2 linked regions of the Homo sapiens genome follow. The protein of the gene in region 1 purifies or fractionates together with the protein of each later gene. This does not show direct contact. Each region holds a gene or a part of one and is shown on either strand. Other genes may lie near its edges. The genes, in order: UBXN2B and FAM89A.

Evidence for each region.
Region 2: the proteins of UBXN2B (region 1) and FAM89A purify together in Homo sapiens (affinity purification with mass spectrometry; 2 studies listed by BioGRID and IntAct, with this or other methods). This does not show direct contact.

Annotation. Positions count from the first base shown.
Region 1 is NC_000008.11:58,409,965-58,414,339, forward strand, and holds the start of UBXN2B (UBX domain-containing protein 2B), read left to right. Parts: upstream 1-1,396; 5' UTR 1,397-1,421; coding exon 1,422-1,505; intron 1,506-4,375. UniProt on the Homo sapiens protein: Adapter protein required for Golgi and endoplasmic reticulum biogenesis. Involved in Golgi and endoplasmic reticulum maintenance during interphase and in their reassembly at the end of mitosis.
Region 2 is NC_000001.11:231,020,780-231,023,498, forward strand, and holds part of FAM89A (protein FAM89A), read right to left. Parts: intron 1-2,719.

The sequences.
Region 1 (4,375 bases):
TTCCCCTCACATGGCTCACATTTCCTTTGTAACCCTCCCAAGCAAAGCTCTACTGCAAGCTGCATCTTACCCGTTTACATGTCTCTTTTCCCTACTAGACTGAGTTTCATAATGACTGGGACTATTTCTTTTTACCTTTGCATCCCTTGGGCATAAAAGTGCCTAGGAGGCCAGGCGCAGTGGCTCACGCCTGTAATCCCAGCACTTTGGGAGGCCGAGGTGGGCAGATCATGAGGTCAGGAGATCAAGACCATCCTGGCCAACATGGTGAAACCCCGTCTTTACTAAAAATACAAAAGTTAGCCGGGCATGGCGGCACGCACCTGTAGTCCAAGCTACTCGGGAGGCTGAGGCAGGAGAATTGCTTGAACCCGGGAGGTGGAGGCTGCAGTGAGCCGAGGTCGCGCCACTGCACTCCAGCTTGGGCGACAGAGCGAGGCTCCGTCTCAAAAACAAAAAGTGCCTAGGATAAGAAGACCAGAGTCTAAATCAATTTCAGTTGAATGACGAGGGCTTGATAGTCTCGAGATCTGCTTTTTTTCTTTTTTGAGACGGATCCTCCCTGTGTCGCCAGGCTGGAGTGCAGTGGCGCGATCTCGGCTCACTGCAACCTCCGACTCCCTGATTCAAGCGATTCTCCTGCCTCAGTCTCCCCAGTAGCTCGGACTACAGGCACGCTCCGCCACGCCCAGCTAATTTTTGTGTATATATATATATATATATGTGTATATATATGTATATATATGTGTATATATATATGTGTGTGTATATATGTGTATATATATATGTGTGTGTATATATATATATATATATATATATATATATATTTTTTTTTTTAGTAGAGAAGGGGTTTCACCATGTTGGCCAGGATGGTCTCGATCACCTCGTCCGCCTCGGCCTCCCAAAGTGCTGGGACTACAGGCGTGAGCCACAGGCCCGGCAGAGTTCTGCTTTTAGCAAATTATTCCAAGCACTTTTTACGGTGTTTTTCACTCTCAGTGCTAATTCACGCTGTGGTGACGATGTACCATCCAATCCTTGATAGGAAAGATCAGAGAATCTGACCAAGACTAGATGGAGAGGTTGCAATTTTTCATCAGATGAAAAATCCAGAGGATGTTTTCATTGTTGAGCTAAATGAATCTGCAAGTCTATGCTGCCCTCTAGGGCGGCCTACAGTGCCTTTAGGCGAGTAGCAGGAGCAACACAAAACTTAACAGAGGTTTCCCTGCGGAGAAACTCCCTTTAAGAAAAAAGGAGAAACCAAAAAGGTGGGCCAGCACCGGAAGCGGGGGCGCGGGTTCGGGTAGCGGGGACGCGCACGCACCTTGCGCGTCTTCGCCCCTCCTGCGGTTGCCAGGCAACCGGCCCCGGAAGTTGCGGCAGGTGCGTCCGCAGCGGGCGCCGCTAGCCAGCGGAAGATGGCGGAGGGCGGAGGCCCTGAGCCCGGCGAGCAGGAGAGGAGGTCTTCCGGGCCGCGGCCTCCGAGCGCGCGGGATTTGCAGGTGAGGCGAGGAGCCGGGGGAGGGAGCGCGGCGGTGGACGCGGGCTGGTGACGGCGCGGGCTGGTGCGAGTTGGAGGCCACCTCTGGCCTCGGCGGAGCCTTTCCCCGACCCCGTCTGGGGATAGAATCCGGCGCCCGGTCTCCCGATGTCGGGTCTTGACACTGTGGTGGTCGTGAACACAAGTGCCCAAGCCTCCAGCGCTGGTGCTTTGTCTCCCTTCCACCCCACGTATGATGTAAAAATAGCTATTCGTTTAGAATGACATTTTGCGGGGTCAGTTGGTCGGTTCACGGGTTGATGCTTCCTTCTTGAGACTTACTCCAGAAGAAAGGTTACTGTGGCCGCAGGGAAGTAGACAGTCACCTGAACAGTAATGATACGTGATTTGTTCTTTTTTGTCTTGGATGCTATTTCTGACTTGCTTACTTAAATATAAAAATGGTTCCATTTTATCAGGTAGGTTTTTCTTTTAAAGGGGTGAAGGAAAGCGATGCACTCTATGCCCATACAGCCTAGTTGTCTAAGCTGTGGTCTTTAAAACATTGCACTGAAGAAACTGGGAAATAAAATTTCGTAATGTTGTGTAGGACACTAGTATTAGTTAGCTAAATAGTAGCGCACCAAATCCCGTTTTATCAGATACTAACGCCACTTTTCTCATTTTAGGCGTTTTTGTGTCTCATTATAAGATTATTGATAAAAATTTGACAAGTAAATATCAGTAAGGAGATACTAAGGAGAATCTTGGTAGAACAGTTTTACTGTATTACTTTACAACCACACTTCATTCTAATGTGAACAAACCACCATCCATTGTAACATACTGCTGAGCTTTGCGAATGTGGAAATAAGGACATCAAATCCTTAGTCGGTGCTGAACTCTATTGATGGGTAGGTATGTAAGTGTAAAAGACAGTTCTACCTTTTGGAAGCCTACAGATTTCTTCGGAGAAATAGGGTATGAATACTTAGCATAACATTTTAAGATGGAGTATGATTGGGTGCCAAAATAAGCAGTGCATAAAGCGAAGAATTTGGAGGCTGGAGAGATCAGTGTAACATTAGGAGGTGAACTTAATGTAGAATAGTTCCAGCTCCCATAGTTGGTTCAGTAGTAGTAAACAGTATCAAGGGATAGGAAGCTATTGTGTACCTCATCTTTCCTATTATAAACCCACATCACTAAGAGGCAGCATGGAGTTAGTAGTCCCACCAATTTTGGTTTGCCTCTTAGTCCTGCTACTTAGTAGTTTTGTGAACTTAGGAGAAATGTCTTAACCTGTCTGATCCTGTGTCTTCATTTGTAAACTGAGGAAGGTCAGGGTGCTGGTGGTGGTGTAAGGATTAAATAATGTTATAAAGGGCCTATGCAAAATTCCTACATTATCCTGGCTCAGTTGTTGCTGGGCAAATATTTGATTCCTTTTTCCTCAGGAGAAAGATGCTATAACTTTCCCTGGCTAGTCAATTCTAATATCATTAAAGTTAATAGAGTGTGTAACTTAATGTCCTTTCCCTAATTTAAATCCATTTCTTCTTTTTATGTGAAAAGTGAGAACAGCTTGCTTAATGACCACCTGATTCTTGGCAAATTGTTTGCAGTCTTAATCCAGTGGATCAAAGTACGATTAATGTTTGGAGATACTCTGGTAGATGTTGCTAATTGTGAGAATGCCTTCATTTCCACCCTAAGTTATGATGGGGATTTTTTTTTTCATCTCCTGTCTACTTGTTGTAGGTTAGGGCAGTAGGAAGATAACTGATTTCTTTATGAATGTGATTTGGTGTATCAAGTACAGTATCTAAGTATTGATAATCTTTCCTTTAGAACTTAATATGAATGTGAAGAACTTGCAAAGAAACTTGAAAACAGCCAAAGGGATGGCATATCAAGAAATAAAGTATGTATCAAAAGTTTAAAAGAATTAAATAATGTTCTTCCCAAATGGTACCTTGGATATTGATTATTTATAGATTATCTTGTTACCGTTTAATCTAGACATGCTTTTCTTAAGAGTTACGCAGTTCGTGCAGCTTTCAGTAGATATTTCTTACTTCCCTAACAGCTTGCTCTAAGAGTCTTTCAGAGTGAGTAAAGGGGCAACATATTACCAATTGGAACAAGCAGAATTACCCCTGAGTAAGTGTATCTTAGCTGCCATGCAGTGTAGGGTTTGTCAGCATCTGAATCAGGAGGGAGTGTTCCAGGTACCACCAGAGAAAAGCTGCATAGTTGCTTCCCAAAAGGCCTCCCAGCCCTGGGAGCCCCCAGGTTACAAACTGCAGACTCGGAAATGTTTTTTTGCATATCAGAGTAGATTTTCATAGCTCCCTTCATCCCCCTCAAATAAGGAGATGGTCATGGGGAAAGTTAGGGGTGGGATTGTTAGTGGCAAAACTAAGCCCAAAACCTCACCAGTGTTCAATAGTATTTCTGAATTGCTTTCTCTTCTGGTGTCCCTCAGCCCGCCACACACATGTTCATTAAGGTATTTAGTTGTATACTCTGTCCCAGTTTTCCTCCACATATTATCTGTTTCTACATAGGTTGGACGGGGAGGGAGTGGGAACAGGGATAACTTCAGTATTGTTAGGGTTAGGATTGGATTTGTTAGGATGGACTCAATAGTGGGTACTATAAATGAGAAGAATTAAAATGTCTGATAGCTGTTCTGATAACTGTGTTGCCACAAGTACCCTAATCATATTGAATGTCATTATTCTGTATCGTTGATTCTCTAGTATGCATCTGTGACCTGGAAGGCTTGTCAGAGATTGCTGGGCCCTACCCCAGAGTGTGATTCATTGGTTCTAGAGTAGAGTTTAAGCATATGCATTTCCTAGAAGTTCCCAGGTGTCTGTATAATAA
Region 2 (2,719 bases), on another chromosome or scaffold:
TTCCTCCTGAAAACTAGCCCCACAAAAACAAGCAGCAAAAGAACACAGAACATTTATAAAAGTCATATACTTGTTTATCTTCCAGTTCCTCCCTCCCCCACCACCCATCCCAGAGAAAAGAGCACGGTCACAGTCAGAACAGGAAATGCATCGTTTACACCAATACCAAAGAGAGAACAGTTAAGCCTCTTGGAAATGCAGCATAGACCAGCATCGGTGCCTCTTAACCTTTAAAGTGCATGAGAACCACCCGGGGATCTTGTTCAACAAGCAGACTCTGATTCAGTGGGTCTGGGGCCACTGGATGGCTGTGCTTCCACCAAGCCCCTATGGTGATTCCGTGCTATGCTGCTGTTCCACAGACCCTGCTCTGAATGGCAACGGGAAGAAACTCAAGAAGACACCAGGGGACCTGCCTTCGGCTTCTTGGCCCCTGAGCAAGGTATTTATCACCTTCATCTCCGTGCCTTGGTTGATGGCAAAATGGAACAATAATTTCTCTTATGGAGCTATTAGGGCAATTCAATATCAATCCACTCAATAAACAGGATTCTAATGCCTCCCGGGCTAAAGCACTAAAGATGCATGGGTACAGCTCTCCTGGGCGGCTGGAGAAGGAGCTTCTTCTCTGGAGTGCGCCGGTGGCAGCGCCTGCAGACCTAACTAGCTCCAGGACTTTAAAATACTGGAAATCTGTCCCGATCCAAATTCTTTTGCAAGCCAGATGATTAACCAGAGGGCACGAAAGGTTGAGAACATTCGACTTCCCTGCAAACCTTGGTATAGATCACTTCCTTTTCTGTTAGGAAACGAAAGGCACCAAAGAGCACAATGAGTACAAGAAAGCGTCGAGGTGGAGCAATAAATTCTAGACAAGCCCAGAAGCGAACACGGGAAGCAACCTCCACCCCTGAGATTTCCTTGGAAGCAGAACCCATAGAACTCGTGGAAACTGCTGGAGATGAAATTGTTGACCTCACTTGTGAATCTTTAGAGCCTGTGGTGGTTGATCTGACTCACAATGACTCTGTTGTGATTGTTGACAAAAGAAGAAGACCAAGGAGGAATGCTAGGAGGCTGCCCCAGGACCATGCTGACAGCTGCATGGTGAGCAGTGACGATGAGTTGTTGTCCAGGGACAGAGACGTGTATGTGACTACCCACACTTCCAGAAACACCAGGGATGAGGGCGCTATAGGCCTCAGGCCCTCGGGTACTGTCGGTTGTCCTATCTGCATGGACAGATATTCAGAGATCGTGCAGAATAGACGTCTCATCGTTTCCACAGAATGTGGCCATGTCTTCTGTAGCCAGTGCCTCCGTGATTCCCTGAAGAACGCTAATACTTGCCCAACTTGTAGGAAAAAGATCAACCACAAACAGTACCACTCCATTCATATATGAAGTATTCAGAGACGCCCAGGAGAGACGGATGGACAATCAGGTTCTCCAGTGGTATCTGCCTCCATTTTCCTGAGCTCAAAAAGACTGTTTTGAAACCCACGTCTGATATGTAAACTGCTCTTTTGTTTCCAACCCCTTCCTTTTGTTATCTCCAGTTTGATGCTATGGCGCTGGACCCAGGGCCCTCCCAGGCCATCTCTGTTCCTCTGGGGTGGTCCAGTTCTAGAGTGAGAGAAAGGGAGTCAGGCACACTGGGAATCGTGGTTCCAGTCTGGTTGCAGAACCTGCACATTTGCCAAGAAATTTTCCGTTTGGAAAGTTTGCCCCAGCTTTCCCGGGCACACCACCTTTTGTCCCAAGTGTCTGCCGGTCGACCAATCTGCCTGCCACACATTGACCAAGCCAGACCCGGTTCACCCAGCTCGAGGATCCCAGGTGCAAGAGTGGCCCCTTGAGGCCCTGAAAAGACCAATCACTGGACTTCTTCCCTTGAGAGTCAGAGGTCACCCGTGATTCTGCCTGCACCTTATCATTGATCTGCAGTGATTTCTGCAAATCAAGAGAAGCTCTGCAGGGCAATCCCGTTTCCTAAGAATGAAAAAGTGCAATAAAGGCCATTCGTTACCTACTTTTCAGCAGCCCACCAGATGTAGCACTATTAGTGTCCCCCTCAGAGGCTTAATGTTGCCTGTGGAGCAGTGCCCATCCCAGCCCATTTCTGCCCACCAGTTGTTCTCAGGAACCTTACCCATGCTCCAGCGTCCTTCACCTGGCACAGGACATGCAAGATAAATAGGACAGGCACATGTTTGGGTGTCCTCTCTTTTCTGATAAAATCCATCCGGTGTTTGCCACACGCCCTCCAGTCCTCAGTTCCCACTGCCTAACATCTGCCCCCCGTGTAGATACTGAGAGGTGGTGGCAGTAATTGTGGCCTTATCAGCCGCTCAGTTCCAGCCTTTTGCCCAGGTCACTGTTGCCCCATGTTCGGAGAACCTGGCCCACCTGACTTGGCTTTCTCATCCTTCCCAACCCCGTGCCGTTTATTTCAGAAGCCCACTGGGCTTGGATGCTTTGGGCCTTTGACTGCTCCATAGGTTATGACTGGTGAAACAGGGGCCCAGAGGACAACCTCTCCTTCACTCCACAGGTAGGTGGGAGCCTCAGGTTCGCTCAGGGGCAGCAAAGTGGCCCAAGCTGCCCCTGACAGCACAGGGCCTGGCGGTGGCTAACGAGAGAGGCCTTACAGTGCCGGCATGCCTCCTCTTCCGCTGCCCTCCTTCCTCAGAGGGCTTCAAGCAAAACAAACAGCCTT